Linked DNA regions of Homo sapiens: region 1 is linked to region 2. The links come from fine-mapping of genetic effects on gene expression. A gene starts in region 2. The other region holds a variant in brackets. All regions are shown on one strand. Distances are between the middles of the regions.

What was found.
Region 1: its variant is fine-mapped to the expression of C19orf38 in whole blood (INTERVAL, PIP 0.95).

What each region holds. Positions count from the first base shown.
Region 1 is chr19:10,973,875-10,982,202 of GRCh38, reverse strand. The region is part of intron 1 of SMARCA4 (SWI/SNF related BAF chromatin remodeling complex subunit ATPase 4); the gene reads right to left. Among named protein-coding and RNA genes, the nearest start is that of SMARCA4, 17 kb to the right of the region's middle. RefSeq lists an enhancer at 4,365-5,057. The variant T/ATT (reference allele first, on the strand shown) is at 3,423.
Region 2 is chr19:10,843,564-10,851,891 of GRCh38, reverse strand. It overlaps C19orf38 (chromosome 19 open reading frame 38), which reads right to left and starts at 3,477. Exons shown (of 7, transcript NM_001136482.3): 1 at 3,353-3,477; 2 at 1,325-1,633. The coding sequence starts at 3,383.

The sequences.
Region 1 (8,328 bases), 130 kb before region 2:
ACGCCAGGCCAATTTTTTTATTTTTAGTAGAGACGGGGTTTCACCACATTGGCCAGGCTGGTCTCGAACGTCTGACCTTCAGGTGATCCACCCGCCTTGGCCTCCCGAAGTGCTGGGATTACAGGTGTGAGCCACCGTTCCTGGCCAAAAATTACATTGTATTAGGTGATCTAGCGGAAAAAGTTTTAATTTGAAAGGTAGGGGTTTTTGTTTTGTATACAGAGTCTTACTCTATCACCCAAGCTGGAGTGCAGTGGAGCCATCATAGCCCACTGCAGCCTTGACCTCGGGGGCTCAAGCCGTCCTCCTGCCTCAGCCTCCCGAGTAGCTGGGACCATAGGAGTGCATCACCATGCCTGGCTAATTTTTCTTAATTTTTTTGTAGAGACAGGGGTCTCTCTATGTTGCCCAGGCTGGTCTCAAACACTTGTTGATCCTGGCTCAAGGGATCCTCCAGCCTGGACTTCCCAAAGTGCTGGAATTACAGGTGTGAGACACTGCACCCAGCCATAGGGATATATTCTTAGACAAGAGATGAAAGGCTCAAAATGACCTCATTCCACTTTCATGGCTAACAGCAGGAGAGAGGACCAGGAAACTCAGCAGGGGAGGAACCAGTGGCTGGCACTCCAGCCAATCCTGAAAAGATGGCCCCTGACATAAACAAACCTAAATGTGTTACTGCAAGGAAATTCATCTGGAGGCAAAATCTGACCTGATTCTGCTCCGTGTGGATATTCGCACATTCTGCTACAGAAACAGGATCTGTCTGATTATGAGATGCCGCCCTGGCCTCTGCCATGTGACAACAGTCTGAACCTTGCGTTTATGTTACTAAGATGCTGATTTTGGAGCCTGAAGCCTCTGGTCCATGGGTATGTCTGCAGGGAGGATGCGCCTGCAGCTACCTCCATAGGTGGGAAGCCCAGCAACGTGGGCACGGCCAGGGCAGGGGGAGGCACTGGCTCCTTGGCGCTCCCCTCTGGGCCTTCTGTCCCCACAGTCTTCTCAGGTCCACAGAGTGTTGCAATGAGGTAGGAAAAGGGACAGCAGGACTGCCACATACTTCATAGATCCTGTGATATTCAGGGACCTATAGCTTCTTCCTCACTTGAAGGTCTTTATTCTAAGTCAAATAAACTGAAACTGACAGCAAAATACAATCCAGCACGCCTGTAATCCCAGCACTTTGGGAGGCCAAGGCAGGGGGATGGCCTGAACCCAGAAATTCAAGATCAGCCTGGGCAACATGGCAAAACCTCATCTCTACAAAAAATACAAAAATTAGCCATGCTTGGTGACACATGCCTGTAGCCCCAGCTACTTGGGAGGCTGAGGTGGGAGGGTTACCTGAGTCCAGGAGGTTGAGGCTGCAGTGAACCATGACCGCACCACTGCACTCTAGCCTGGGCAAAAGGGCGAGACGCTGTCTCAGAGGAAAAAGAGAAAAAGATCCAGGTCATTGAGGGCAAACCATCTTTTCCCTCTCTGAAGGTGGACAAGCCAACGAGCATACACTGGGAAGTGACTGAAATTATAGCTCTCCTCATTGTACATTTTTTTTTTTTTGAGACAGAGTCTCACTCTGTCGCCCAGGCTGGAGTGCAGTGACATGATCTCTGCTCACTGCAACCTCCGTCCCCGGGGTTCAAGCGATTCTCATGCCTCAGCCTCCCGAGTAGCTGGGACTACAGGCGTATGCCACCTAATCGTACTTTACACTGAGCATTAGAACTTCTCCCCTCTCCCTTCCATCAAATCATGCGATGCCGTCACAGCCTCCAGGAACGGCTCCAACTCAAAGCAGCGCTAACTTTGTCAACGGAAAAACAGAGTACACTGAAGATGCTGCCCCAAAAAACCATTTTGTGCCCGAATAAGGCAAGTCTGCTTTTTAGAAGCACGGGGTTTCACAGAGGCTTGTTAGAATGGCCTCTCCTCCTGAAAATGCTGCCTCTAGAGTCAGGCTGCAGTGAAACAGGAACGCGGGTGCCACCAGCATCCGCAAATTCATTTCCGGATTGAAAGCTCAGACACGTGCAGAGTGACAGTAAAGGGGATCCCAACAGCCCGGGAGTGATGCAAAGCCATCCCCAGCAGTATCGCCCAGTGCCAAAGCCTGTGATGAGGTTGCTGGTGCCTGCACTTGAACAAGCACTGGCCGACTTGCAGCACAAAGTGGAGAGCCGTGGAGCGACTCCACGTCCTCAGCTCAGTACTGAGGGGAGCAGCGTGTGATTCTGCTTACTCTCACTGACTTGTACATGCCCTGATCGCAGGATCATAGGTGAACAGCTTGAAGAACACTGCGTCAGACATCCCTCCTGACGTTCCAGAAGGCATTCTTGGGCCCCCCCAGTCAATACCACTCTCCCAGGGAAACCACTATTTTGACTATCACTGTGGCTTCCTTTCACCTGTTATTGAACTTCCAATAAAATGACGGGTGTGGTGGGTCACGTCTATAATACATATATTATATAATATACAATATATACTTATAACATATAATATATGTAACATATAAATAATATAATGTTGGGGGCAGTGGGTCATACCTATAATCCCAGCACTTTGGGAGGCCAAGGCAGAAGGATCGCTTGAGTCCAGGAATTCAAGACCAGCCTAGGCAACATAGCAAGACCCTGTCTCTACAAGTTTTTTTTTTTAAATTAGCTTATACTCAGGAGGCTGAGTAGGGAGAACTGTTTGAGCCCAGGAGGTCAAGGCTGCAGTGAGCCATGATCGTGGGCAACAGAGAAAGACCCTGTCTCAAAAAAAAAAAAAAAAGACAATCACACAGGGTCACCATGTCTGGGAGAGTCATCCGTTCTTTTTATGTGAGCATTCTCATTTTCATAGACATTGTACTCTACCAGGTTCTGGCCAGCACAAATCAAGCTGCTATGAGAGTCATTTGGTGAACACATGCATTGGTTCTTCTTGGGTGTCCAAGAATGAAACTGGTGGTTATAAAGGGAGGCATAAACTTAGCTTTGCTAGTTTTCCAAAATAGTTGTATCATCTACACACACGGTCCCACCTCCCACACAGGGACAGCATTCCAGGTGCTCTTCATCAACCCCAACACTTGCTGCTGTCAGTCCTTACAACTTTTAACAATGTTGCCAATGTCCAATCGCATCTTCTTATGGTCTTCATTTGCATGTCCCTCACAACTAATGGCACGGAGCACCTTTCTGTATGCTTACTGGCTATTGAGATATCTATCTATCTATTTATTTATTTATTTAGAGACAGAGTCTTGCTCCATCACCCAAGCTGGAGTGCAGTGGCGTGATCTCGGCTCACTGCAACCTCCGCCTCCTAGGTTCAAGCGATTATCGTGCCTCAGCTTCCCGAGTAGCTGGGATTACAGGCACGCACCACTATACCTGGCTAAAATATATATATATATATAT[T/ATT]TTTTGTATTTTTAGTAGAGACGGGGTTTCGCCATGTTGGCCAGGCTGGTCTTGAACTCCTGATCCACCTGCATCAGCCTCCAGAAGTGCTGGGATTACAGGCACGAGCCACCACATATGTGGCCGGTATCCACTTTTAAAAAGTAGAAAGTATCGGCCGGGCGTGATGGCTCATACCTGTAATCCCAGCACTTTGGGAGGCCGAGGCAAGCAGAGGTCAGGAGTTCGAGACCAGCCTGACCAAAATGGTAAAACCCGTCTCTACTAAAAATACAAAAATTAGCCAGGCGTGGTGGGTGCATGCCTATAATCCCAGCTACTTAGGAGGCTGAGGCAGGAGAATCACTTGAACCCGGTAGGTGGAAGTTGCAGTGAAGCCGAGATTACATCATTGCACTCCAGCCTGGGCAATAAGAGTAAACCTCCATCTCAACAAACAGAAAAAAAGAGAGAGAAGCTCTTAATTCTAATGAAGGCCAGTTCATCAAGTTTGGTCTTTGAGGTTTAACATTTCTGGGGTCCTATTTAAGAAATCCTCGTCTACCGTAAGGTCATGCTGACAGAGGAAGGGAAGGGATATTTGCAAATCCAGCGGGGACTGTGGCTTGCCTTCACCTCCCTGTGATTTACAACTGCTGAGGATGTCTCAGTCACAAAGAAATGGCAAGGAAGGAAGATCTAGCCAGGAGGTAGGGGCCTCAGCCTACTTGATGGTAACAACTGAGACTCCCCGCACTGGGCCCTCACCACCACACAGGGACTACAGTGGTCCTGCTGGCCAGCTGACAGATGACAGGGAAGTGGAAGAGTTCAGGTCACAAGGCCAAGGCCACAGTGGAACTCACTGCCATGCATCCCACACTCTGAACATGGACTGTGAAGCCACGGTGCCACCTGCCTCACGGGTAACCTCCCTGTGGCTCCACCTCCTCCTCCACAGGCTGGAACATCGAACCATCACTCACAGGCAGGAAGTGCCAGCCGCTCAGCTGGTGAAACCAAGGTGCCCCATCTCTCCCCAGGTTTACTGAGCAGCTGCTTAGCACGTGAAAGGTATCGCACTAGGAGCATCACACAGATGAGGTCCTCAGATGCTCCCATCAAAATGTGAAGCAGAGGCTCCTTTCCCTGAACAGAAATGAGAAAACTGAGTCATGGGCTGGGCATGGTGGCCCATGCCTGTAATCCCAGCACTTTGGGAGGCCGAGGCGGGCGGGTCACTTGAGGTGAGAAGTTCAACACCAGCCTGGCCGACTTGGTGAAACCCCGTATCTACTTAAAAAACAAAAAGTAGCTGGGTATGGTGGTGCATGCCTGTAATGCCAGCTACTCGGGAGGCTGGGGCAGGAGAATTGATTGAACCCGAGAGGCAGAGGCTGCAGTGAGCCGAGATCACACCACTGCACTCCAGCCTGGGCAACAGAGCAAGAGTTCATCTCAAAAAAAACAAAAACAAAACAAAAAAAAACTCGAGTCCGTAACGCAGCCTCCCCCCAGCACAAACCGCAGGTAACACTCCTGCCCCGCAATGCTCAGGAACAACAGACTGGCTTCCCCTCTTGGGCGCGCATCAGGTAGAAGCAGCTGGCTGGAGAGCAGCAAACCCCTAGGTGCGATCCAGGACCTGCTGTCAGCCATGACACGCCCACCCTGGCAAGCAATGCACACAGATTTGGCCGGCTGCCAAGAATTTTGTTCTTGTTATTTGTTTATTTATTTGTTTTGGAGACAGAGTCTCGCTCTGTCACCCAGGCTTAGCGCAGTGGTGCGACCTTGGCTCACTGCAACCTCCGCCTCCTAGGTTCAAGCGATTCTCCTGCCTCAGCCTCCCGAGTAGCTGGGACTACAGGCGCACACTGCCGAACCTGGCTAATTTTTTTGTATTTTAGTAGAGACAGGGTTTTTGCCATGTTGCCCAGGCTGGTCTCAAACTCCTGAGCTCAGGCAATCCGCCTGCCTCGGCCTCCCAAAGTGCTAGGATTACAGATGAGAGGCACCACGCCCGGCCCAATTTTTTTTTTTTTTTTGAGACAGGGTCTCGCTCTGTCTCCCAGGCTGGAATGCAGTGGCGCCATCACAGCTCACAGCCTTGAACTTCTGGGCTCAAGTGATCCTCCCATCTCAACTTCCCGAGTAGCTGGGACTACAGGCTCATGCCACTATGCCCAGCTAATTTTTGTATTTCTTTATAGAAATGAGGTCTCGCCGTGTTGCCCAGGCTGGTCTCAAACACCTGGGCTCAAGTGATCCGCCCACCTCAACCTCCGAAAGTGCTAGGACTACAGGCATGAGCCACCGCACCTAGCCCAAGCCACAGTGCCTGACCCACAAACATCTCTTATCCCTCCTTGCTCCCACAGCCATAAGCATGGTGTTGTTCTCAGCCCTCAACCTCCTCCTGGCCAGCTCACCCTCCCTGAAGGGCTGGGGTGAGGCCAGCCCTGTAGAAGCTGGATGGGGTGTGGGGCTGGGTGCACCTTGCTCCGGCGAGATGTCTACACGGGAAGGCCAAACGAGCACGGCCAGGAAAGGTGTCTAAGGACAAGGAACACCTCTCTCTCTACCCCTTCTTACCCCATCGCCAATCATCCCTGCCCTTCTATACAGGAAACGAAGGATTTGGCATTTTCAGCAAAGTCCTGGGGTGGCCAAAGGTCGTCCCTAAGGTGTCTTACACGGTGCCGCTTAGAGTCCTGCAATGGGGCCCTCAATGATAAGTCACTAGCAGGGGAAATTCACGCAGCAATGAAATCCATTGCAGACCAGGAGGCCACACCTACTCAGGTGGAAAAAGCAAAGGATGAGGGGATTCAGGGGCCAAAAGGGCAAGAATAGTTAGTACAGCGTGTGGAAGCCAAATCCAGATGTGTGCGGCCCTTGGATCGGGTGCTGCCGGGGCCTCCACAAGGAGAAAACAGAGCCTGGGAATCCAGGCCAGCAGCCAGAAGGAATGACCGGAAGTGAAACTACTCTGGCACAAGAATCTAAAAGCTAAGATGTAAAACACTCAGTTAAAAGTCCAGGAGGTTAACCCTTTCCCTGGGCCAAAGGGTCTAGAAGTGGTGTGGCCATATTGCCTCAATTTCTTGAGAAGCTCCTCAATTGCCCAGCAATCAGAACCCCCACACAACCCACGCTGCAGAAGTCTTGGCACATCAAAAAAGAATTGAGAGGCTGGGCGTGGTGGCTCACGCCTACAATTCCAGCACTTTGCGAGGCCAAGGTGGGCGGATCACAAGGTCAGGAGTTTGAGACCACCCTGGCCAACATGGTGAAACCCTATCTCTACTAAAATACAAAAATTAGCTGGGCGTGGTGGAGCTGGCCTGTAGTCCCAGCTATTCGGGAAGCTGAGGCAAGAGAATCGCTTGAACCCGGGAGGTGGAGGTTGCAGTGAGCCAAGATCGCGCCACTGCACTCCAGCCTGGCAACAGAGAAACACTCAAAAAAAAAAAAAAAAAAGTAAGGTTGGATATGGTGTTAATGCCTATAATCCCAGCACTTTGGAGGCCAAGGAAGGCAGATCACCTGAGGCCAAGAGTTCGGGACCAGCCTGGCCAACATAGCAGAATCCCATCTCTAGTAAAAATACAAAAGTCAGCCAGGGGTAATGGTGCATGCCTGTAGTCCCAGCTACTCAGGAGGCTGAGGCACGATAATCACTTGAACCAGGAAACGGAGGTTGCAGTGAGCCAAGATCACGCCACTGCACTCCATCCTGAGCGACAGAGACCCTGTCTCAAAAAAAAAAAAAAAAAAAAAAGAATAACTATATATGCATATGGCTGGGCATGGTGTCTCACAGCTGTAATCCCAGCACTGTCGGAAGCTGAGGCGAGCGGATCACCTGAGATCGAGACCAGCCTGGCAAACGTGGTGAAACCCCATCTCTACAAAAACACAAAAGTTAGCTAGGCGTGGTGGTGGGCACCTGTAATCACAGCTACTTGGGAGGCAGAGGCAGGAGAATCACTTGAACCCAGCAGCCAGAGGTTGCGGTGAGCCAAGATCGCACCACAGCTCTCTAGCCCAGGCAATAGAGCAAGACTCTGTCTCAAAAAAAAAAAAAAAAAAAAAAAAAAAAAAAAAAATATATATATATATATATATATATGCATGTTAATCCATGCATAGAAATTACCCCAAAGAAAACATGCACAAACCGCTGTCAGCACAGCCAGTAGCTCTCTCTGATGGCATGTGATGAGGAACTTACCCTTTCCATATCACAGATGTCTGGCGCTTTTTATTTATTTTTTACAATAGCCATCTATTACTTTTTATATTCAGATTTTTAAAGAAAAACTTCCAAGAAAAAAAAAAAAAGCCTAAATCAGAATACCCATGAAATAAATACCCACAAGAAATGCCCAGGAAGTGTCTTTGTGGAAATAAAAGAGAAAGATCAAAGGATGTGAGAACTACCATGTTCTCATTATTTTCAACTTCATCAAAATTATCATCTAAAATAGAAACATCTGTTGACGTTCAAATGTGGAAGGAGACTGCTTGAGGAAGAGAAGAGGTCTGGTCTCTTCTTTCACGCCACCCCTAGCTTTTGTCTTAAAGCACTGCGGTGACCAGCCCCAGGCAGGGCAGGTTGCTAACCAGCAATCGGATCCCTTGGAAATCTGTTTGTTGGAATTATGGTGGTTGTTTTCACCTTGCATGAGAAACTAGCATTATATTTAAGTTTGGTCCCAGGATATCTGCTATTGTGTTTTTTGGGGCTTGGGGAAATTTGTTCACGGACACATTTCAGCAGCAGACCAACGTGGGAGTCAGGTTATGGCAGAGGCTTGGGCGGAACAACAGCAATGGGCAGGATGGCTTCCGCAGAGCCAGCCCCGTTTACTATGCGTGAACTACAAAACAAAATGTTCCCCTCGGTGGTCTATAAGAAAAC
Region 2 (8,328 bases):
GGTTCACGCCATTCTCCTGCCTCAGCCTCCCGAGTAGCTGGGACTACAGGTGCCCGCCACCGCGCCCGGCTAATTTTTTGTATTTTTAGTAGAGACGGGGTTTCACCTTGTTAGCCAGGATGGTCTCAATCTCCTGACCTCATGATCCACCCGCCTCGGCCTCCCAAAGTGCTGGGATTACAGGCGTGAGCCACCACGCCCAGCCTATTTTTTGTATTTTTAATAGACATAGGGTTTCACCATGTTGGCCAGGCTGGTCTTAAGCTCTGACCTCAGGTGATCCACCTACCTCAGCTTCCCAAAGTACTGGGATTACAAGCATGAGCTACCATGTCCGGCCCTGGTCAACATTTTAGACCCTCATCTCTAAAATAATTTTTTAAATTAGCTGGGCATGGTGGTGCACACCTGTAGTCTCAGCTACTTAGGAGGCTGAGGTGGGAGGATCACTTGAGGATAGGAATTGGAGGATGAAGTGAGCTATGATTGTGCCATTGCCCTCTAGTCTGCACGACCTTGTCTCATTTAAAAAAAAAAAAAAGCCAGGTGCAGTGGCTCATGCCTGTAATTCCAGCACTTTGGGAGGCTGAGGTAGGCGGATCATGAGGTCAGGGGTTCGAGACTGGCCTGGCCAACATGGTGAAATCCTGTCTTTACTAAAAATACAAAAATTAGCCGGGCATGGTGGCACACACCTGTAATCCCAGATACTCAGGAGGCTGAGGCAGAAGAATCGCTTGAACCAGGAGGCAGAGGCTGCAGTGAGCCAAGATCGTGCCACTGCACTCCAGCCTGGGCAACAAGAGCATAACTATCTCAAAGCAAACAAACAAAAAAAGTATGTGGCCAAGAGGGGAAGTAATGTATGTCACGGAGGTGTAATTCATGGTTTTTGGAAGGCAATGGCATCCCAGACTGGCTACCTGTTACCTGTGTACAAGGTGTGTACCTCCTGTGCCTCAGTTTCCTTATCTGCAAAATGGGAAGAATCACAGCACCAATTTTGGCACCAAGAGGGAGACGGGCTGCCTGACAATAAGACGGAGAAGAATGTGGAGCAGAGATGGGGCAAATGGTCCCTGACAGCTTTCAGCACCTGGATCTAGCCATACCTGAAGTCGGCCCTGTGAGCTGACTTAAGCTCAGTGAACCAACAAATCCCCTTTTGGGCTGGCTGAGAAGATTGAAAAAGGAAAGGCGAGTAAGTCCTGGCAGGGTGTAAGCCTGGCTTTTTCTGGGAAGGCCTCTGAGTCAACAGTACACACAAGAGGTCCATGTGAGAAAATTAAGCCCCCGGCAGTGAGATCCCATAGAAGGGCCTTACCTGGGAAGGAGACGTTCACGGGCTCGCTGAGGTCTGACAGCTGGGACTGGTTGAGCTCACCTAACACTCCATACTGGCAGTGGAAGGGTCCCCCTGGAGCCTTGCTGCTGCCGCCGCTCAGGTTAAATGTCACCCCGCGCTGGTCCGTGGGGGCCTGCAGGAGCTGGACCACCTGCCCCCCTCGATACAGTGTGAAATTCGCCCCCGGGAAGTTCCCAGGGGCCATGCATGCGATGTGGATGGGGTCCTCTTGGCTGCTTGGGTACGGGGGCACCAGCCGGATGGATGGTGCTGGGATCGCCAAGGAGCCTGCAATGCAGAGGGTAAGGTGGGTGGGTGCGTGGTGAGAGTGGAGGCTGCCCTGGCTATGTGGCCTCGGGCAAGTAGACCACCCTCCCTCAGCCTTGTGTTTTCTGTGAGTCAGGAGGCTAGTGACCCTACCCCACACTGCCTGGCACATGGTGACGGCTCCCTGTAGTTGAATTACTTTTCTTTTTTCTTTTTTTTGTGAGTCGGAGTCTCACTCTGCCACCCAGGATGGAATGTAGTGGTGTGATCTCGGCTCACTACAGCCTCCACCTCCCGGGTTCAAGTGATTCTCCAGCCTCCCAAGTAGCTAGGATTACAGGCATGTGGCACTATGCCTGGCCAATTTTTATATTTTTAGTAGAGATGGGGTTTCACTATATTGGCCAGACTGGTCTCGAACTCCTGGCCTCGTGTGACTCCCCCCACCTCGGCCTCCCAAAGTGCTGGGATTATAGGCGTGAGCTACCATGCCTGGCCATCAGTTTTCAATAATAGCATTGGTTATTACATAGCAACACAACTATACTCTTATTTTTTATTTAATTTATTATTACTTTATTTATTTATTTAGAGACAAAATCTTGCTTTGTCGCCCAGGCTGGAGTACAGTGGCCTCAGCCTCCTGAGTACCTGGGACTATGTGCCACCATGCCTGGCTAATTTTTATATTTTTAGTAGAGACGGGGTTTCACCATGTTGGCCAGGCTGGTGAACCTGGCTAGCTAATTTTGCTTATTTTGTGTAGAGATGGGATCTCACTATGTTGCCCAGATCCTCACCTCAAGTGATCCTCCCACCTTGGCCTCCCACGAGCTGAGTCCTGAGTGGTGAGGAAGGACCCATTTGGAGAGCTGGGGAAGGGCATTCCAACAGAGGGAACAGCATAGGCAAAGGTCCAGGGGATGGAAGGGGAATGGGGGTGTTTAAGGAGGAGCAAACACCTGATGCAGTGGCTCACGCCTGTAATCCCAGCACTTTGGGAGGCCAAGGTGGGAGGACTGCTTGAGCCCAGGAATTTGAGACTAGCCTGGAGAACACAGTGAGACCCTGTCTCTATTTAAAAATAAAAATAAATATTAAAAAAGGAGCAGCAAGGAGGCCATCATGGCAGGAGGGAGGGGGTGAGTGAGGTGGGTGGCAGGAAGGGGAGGGGGTGAGTGAGAGGGAGGGCAGGAGAAGGAAGGGCAGAGGACTTTTATCTCCTTTCCCAGGCTTGGGTGAAGAATACGGATTTTGGAGCACGGCTTCCTGCAGGATGGTCTCCTGGGGATCCATCTCTCTCCTGATTGCCCACAGGCTTCTGAGCAGAGTGTCTGGCCAGGTGAGGTCTATACAAACCCTCCCTCGTCCAGCCTCCAACCCCCACCCACCCCTGCCACACTGATATCCCCCTAGGTAGACCCTCCTGCTGCCCCAGCACTCAAGGAGCCTTCAGAGACGAAGCGGGGCTGAATCATGGGGTGTGGGCACAGCTGACTCCAGAGGGGTGATATTTCTGATATTCATAAACTTGGGGGTGATGAGGAGCCTAAGAAGAAAAAACCAACACTACTGGAGAGTTTCCAAGGCTCAGGGGGAAAACCCATCTGCCAAGGGCTCAGCCTCCTCGATGCCCTGAGAACGGCAGCCCCTGCACTGGTTTCTGCCCCTGGAGCGGCAAGGTGGACAGAGGATGGGGGGAAAGGCGTGGGGGATCTGAGAGGGGGGCTTCAGACTCACCAGCTGCAAAGAGCAAGATGGTCCAGGGCATCTCTCTCTGCGTTTGGCTGGGAAATCCGGCTGAGGCCAGAGGGGCCCAAGGCTCCCCGCCAACTCCTCCTGTGAGGCCAGATCGGGGAAAGGAGAACCAGGGCTGATTCTCGAGCTGAGAGTTTCCTCACTGGCAGGAAGTTGCACACACAGGCTTGGGCACTGAAAGGGACTCTCTCCCCTCCCCACCCCTTCCCCAAACACACATCAGACCCGCGCACCTCTCTGGTTGCGGTTCTGCAGATTAGAGGGGAAAAAAATGGATGAGATGTTTAGGTGGTTTTCACAATTTTTTCCTCTTTTTTTATTTTTATTTTTTGAGACAGAGTCTTGCTCTGTTGCCCAGGCTGGAGTGCAGTGGAGCGATCTCGGCTCACTGCAGCCTCCACCTCCCAGGTTCGAGTGATTCTCCTGCCTCAGCCTCCTGAGTAGCTGGGACTACAGGCAGGAGCCATCATGCACAGCTAATTTTTGTATTTTTAGTAGAGACGGGGTTTTGCTGTGTTGGCCAGGATGGTCTCGATCTCTTGACCTCATTATCTGCCCGCCCCAGCCTCCCAAAGTGCTGGGATTTCAGGCGTGAGCCACCGTGCCCAGCCTTTTGTCTCTCCTTCTAAGAGAACTCCTGGGAATGAGACAGGGTGACAGCAGTGGGATGTTTGGAAACCCATGCCCAAGACACAAACCATAGCCTAACCAGCACCAACATTTAAACAAATATGGGCAGGAGTGGGAGGACATGGTGGTTAGGGCTTGGCCTCTGTGACCTCAGGCATGGCTTACCTCCTTTGAGGCTTCAGTATACTGCTCTGCAGAATGGGGCTAAGAGTAGTAGACATTAGGCCAGACGTGGTGGCTCACGCCTGTAATCCCAGCACTTTGGGAGGCTGAGGTGGGCAGATCACCTGAGGTCAGGAGTTCGAGACCAGGCCAACGTGGTGAAACCCCGTCTCTACTATATACAAAAAATTAGCCGGGCGTGGTGGCACACGCCTGTAATCCCAGCTACTCGGGAGGCTGAGGCAGGAGAATCACTTGAACCCAGGAGATGGAGATTGTGGTGAGTTGAGATCGCGCCATTGCACTCCAGCCTGGGCAACAAGAGTGAAATTCCATCTCAAAAAAAAAAAAAAAAAAAAAGAGCAGTGGACATTAGATTCAAAGAACTTGTAGTAGGAAATGCAACGCCTAGTGGGTAGTGCATGCTCACAAGGTAAAGTTACAGGGAGGAAAAAGACTCAGAAGTTTGATCAGCCACATGAAAGGGAATACCAGTTCCAGATCAATTCTGGATATAGTTTGTGATATAGTTCACAGGATAAACTGCCTCCTGTTTACAGCCCAGAAACTTCCAAGTTTCTCTTACTACTGGGTTTGCATTTATCTTTTTAAACATTTCTGTTCAAGCCAGTCAGGTTTGCTTGGGGGTTTGGACCCAAGAAGGATGTGGCATGTGGTCATCAAACACCAAAATGCGTCATTAGAGTAAACTTTTTTCTTTGGACACAGAAAGTTCAATCCAACCTCAGGGCCTTTGCACACACTATTTCCCTGGCCTGGAACACAATTCTGTCAACCTGGTCAAATCCTGCTTCTCCTTCAGGTCTCAGTTTAAATAGCACTTCTGGGAAAACTTTCCAGGCCCCTCTGGACTTAGAACAATCCCCTAGCTAAATTCTCCCACAGTGCCCTGTAATATTCCTTTATTGCAATTGGCATGCTTGTATCTTCAAGGAATTTGCTCATTTCATCAGAGTTGTCAAATGTATTGGTGTAAAGTTATTTATATCCCCTTACTATCCTTTTAATGTCTGTAGGGTCTGTAGTGATGTTCCTTCTTTCATTCCTGACACATAAATTAGTGAAGTCTCCTTGTCTCTTATCGGTCTTCCTAGGAGCTAATCATTGTTATTGATCTTTTCAAAGTGCCACAGTTTGGATTTGTTGTTTTATTTTCTATTTTATTGCCTTTTGACTTGACTTTATTCTTTTCTTTTTTCTGGTTACCTTATGTTCAATTGGCTCTTCTTTTCCTAGCTCATGTTTTGTTTTTAAATTTAAACTTCACCAGCAGAAATTTGTATTAATAGCTTCTTAAGATGGATGCTTATATAAACTCTTTTTATTAAAAAAAAATTTTTTTTAATTAGCCAGATGTGGTAGTGGGTGCCTGTAGTCCCAGCTACTCGGGAGGCTGAGGCTGGAGAATGGCGTGAACCCGGGAAGGAGAGCTTGCAGTGAGCTGAGATCATGCCACTGCACTCCAGCCTGGGCAACAGAGCGAGACTCTGTCTCAAAAAAAAAACAACAAAAAAACATTTTTTTTTTGAGACAGGGTCTTGCTCTATTGCTCAGGCTACAGTGAAGCAGCATGATCATGACTCACTGCAGCCTCACCCTGCTGGGCTCAAGAGATCATCCCATCTCAGCCTCCTGAGTAGCTGGGACTACAGGTGTCCACCACCACACCTGGCTAATTAAAAAAAAAAAAATTGTAGAGACAGGGTCCTATTATGTTACCCAGCCTGATCTTGAACTCCTGGGCTCAAGCAATCCTCCTGACTCAGCCTCCCAAAGTGCTGGGATTACAGGCAGCTCATTAACTTTAAACCCTCTTTTTTTTTTTTTTTTTTGACGGAGTCTTGCTCTGTCGCCCAGGCTGGAGTGCAATGGCGTGATCTCGGCTCACTGCAAGCTCTGCCTCCCAGGTTCACGCCATTCTCCTGCCTCAGACTCCTGAGTAGCTGGGACTACAGGCACCCACCACCATGCATGGCTAATTTTTTGTATTTTTAGTGGAGATGGGGTTTCACCATGTTAGCCAGGATGGTCTCGATCTCCTGACCTCATGATCCACCTGCCTCGGCCTCCCAAAGTGCTGGGATTACAGGCGTGAGCCACCGCACCCGGCCCACCTTTATCTTCTAATACAAGCATTTAAAGGTACACCTTTCCCTCCAAGAACTGTTTTAACTGCATGCCACACATTTTCATATATTGAGCGTCATTAAGTTAGAAATATTTGCTTATTTCCATTGTGCTTTCTTTTCTATGATCCAGAGAATATGTGTGTTGCTTAATGCCCAAGTACTTGGGCTTTTTGGGGGGCAGCTTACTGTTAATGATTTTTAACTCCTTTGTGGTCATATAATTTCAATACTTTGAAATGTACTGACTTTTTAGAATGGTGCAGGGTATCTCGATCCACATTGTACGTACGCTAGAAATTCAAGTACACGGTGTAGTTGTTTGGTATAATATTCTCTAAATATTAATACAATTTGGTCAAGGTAGTACACAGAATATTCTTGAATTTATTGAATTCATCCTCATGCCTTTTTTTTTTTTTGGAGACAAGGTCTTGCTTTCTTGCCCAGGCTGCTGGAGTGCAGTGGTATAATCATGGCTCACTGCAGTCTCCATCTCTCAGGCTCAAGTGATCCTCCCACCTCAGCCTTCCAAGTAGCTGGGACCACAGGCATGCACGGCACCTGGCTAAATTTTTTTTTTTTTTTTGTAGAGAAAGGGTCTCACTACATTGCCTAGCTGGTCTCAAACTCCTGGGCTCAAGTAATCCTCCCACCTTGGGCTCCCAAAGTGCTGGGATTACAGGCGTAAGCCACCACCACGCCCAGCCTCCTTCATTTTTTTTTTTTTTTTTTGAGATGGAATCTCGCTCTGTCGCCCAGGCTGGAGTGCAGTGGCGCAATCTCGGCTCACTGCAAGCTCCACCTCCTGGGTTCACGCCATTCTCCTGCCTCAGTCTCCCGAGTAGCTGGGACTACAGGCAACCGCCACCACGCCCGGCTAATTTTTTGTATTTTTTAGTAGAGACGGGATTTCACTGTGTTAGCCAGGATGGTCTTGATCACCTGACCTTGTGATCTGCCCGCCTCAGCCTCCCAAAGTGCTGGGATTACAGGCGTGAGCCACTGCACCCGGCCTTTCTTTTTTTTTTTTAAACAGAGACAGGGTCTTGCTATGTTGCTCAGGCTGGTCATGAACTCCTGAGCTCAAGCAATCCTCCCACCTTGGCCTCCCAAAGTGCTGGGGTTACAGGCGTGAGCCACCACGCCTAGCTTTTTAAATTTTTTTTTTTTTTTTTTTGAGACGGAGTCTCACTCTGTTACCCAGGCTGGAGTGAAGTGGTGCGATCTCATCTCACTGCAAACTCCACCTCCTGGGTTCAAGCGATTCTCCTGCCTCAGCTTCCTGAGTAGCGGGGATTACACGTGTGCCACCATGCCTGGCTAATTTTTGTATTTTTAGTAGAGACAGGGTTTCACCATGTTGGTCAGGCTGGTCTTGAACTCCTGACCTCGTAATCTACCCACCTCAGCCTCCCAAAGTGCTGGGATTACAGGCGTGAGCCACCGTGTCCAGCCTTTTTTTTTTTTAGACATGGTCTCACTTTGTCGCCCCGGCTGGAGTGCAGTGGCGCAATCTCGGCTGCACTGCAACCTCCATCTTCCGGGTTTAAGTGATTCTCCTGCCTCAGCCTCCTGAGTAGCTGGGATTACAGGCATGCACCACTACGGCTGGCTAATTTTTGGATTTTTAGTAGAGACAGGATTTCACCATGTTGGCCAATCTGGTTTTGAACTCCTGACCTCGAATGATCCGCCCACCTCCCGAAGTGTTGGAATTATAGGCATGAGCCGCCATGCCCAGCCTTCATGATATCTTAACACAGCTTTCCTCCTCCTCTCGGAGCACAAGGATGGGGTCTGTGTTGTTACCTGCAGTGTCCCGTGTCTCCCACCATGCTTGGCACATCATAAATATTTCTCAATCATCTGACCTGACAGCGAAAAAAAACATCCATTCAAGCCACTTCTGTGGCTGTATACTGGGTGTACAGGAGATGGAGTTAAGAGAGATTCCTGGCTTATTTTTTCCACCAACTGAGTACTGAGCATCATCATGTTCCCAGAATTGTGCCAGAG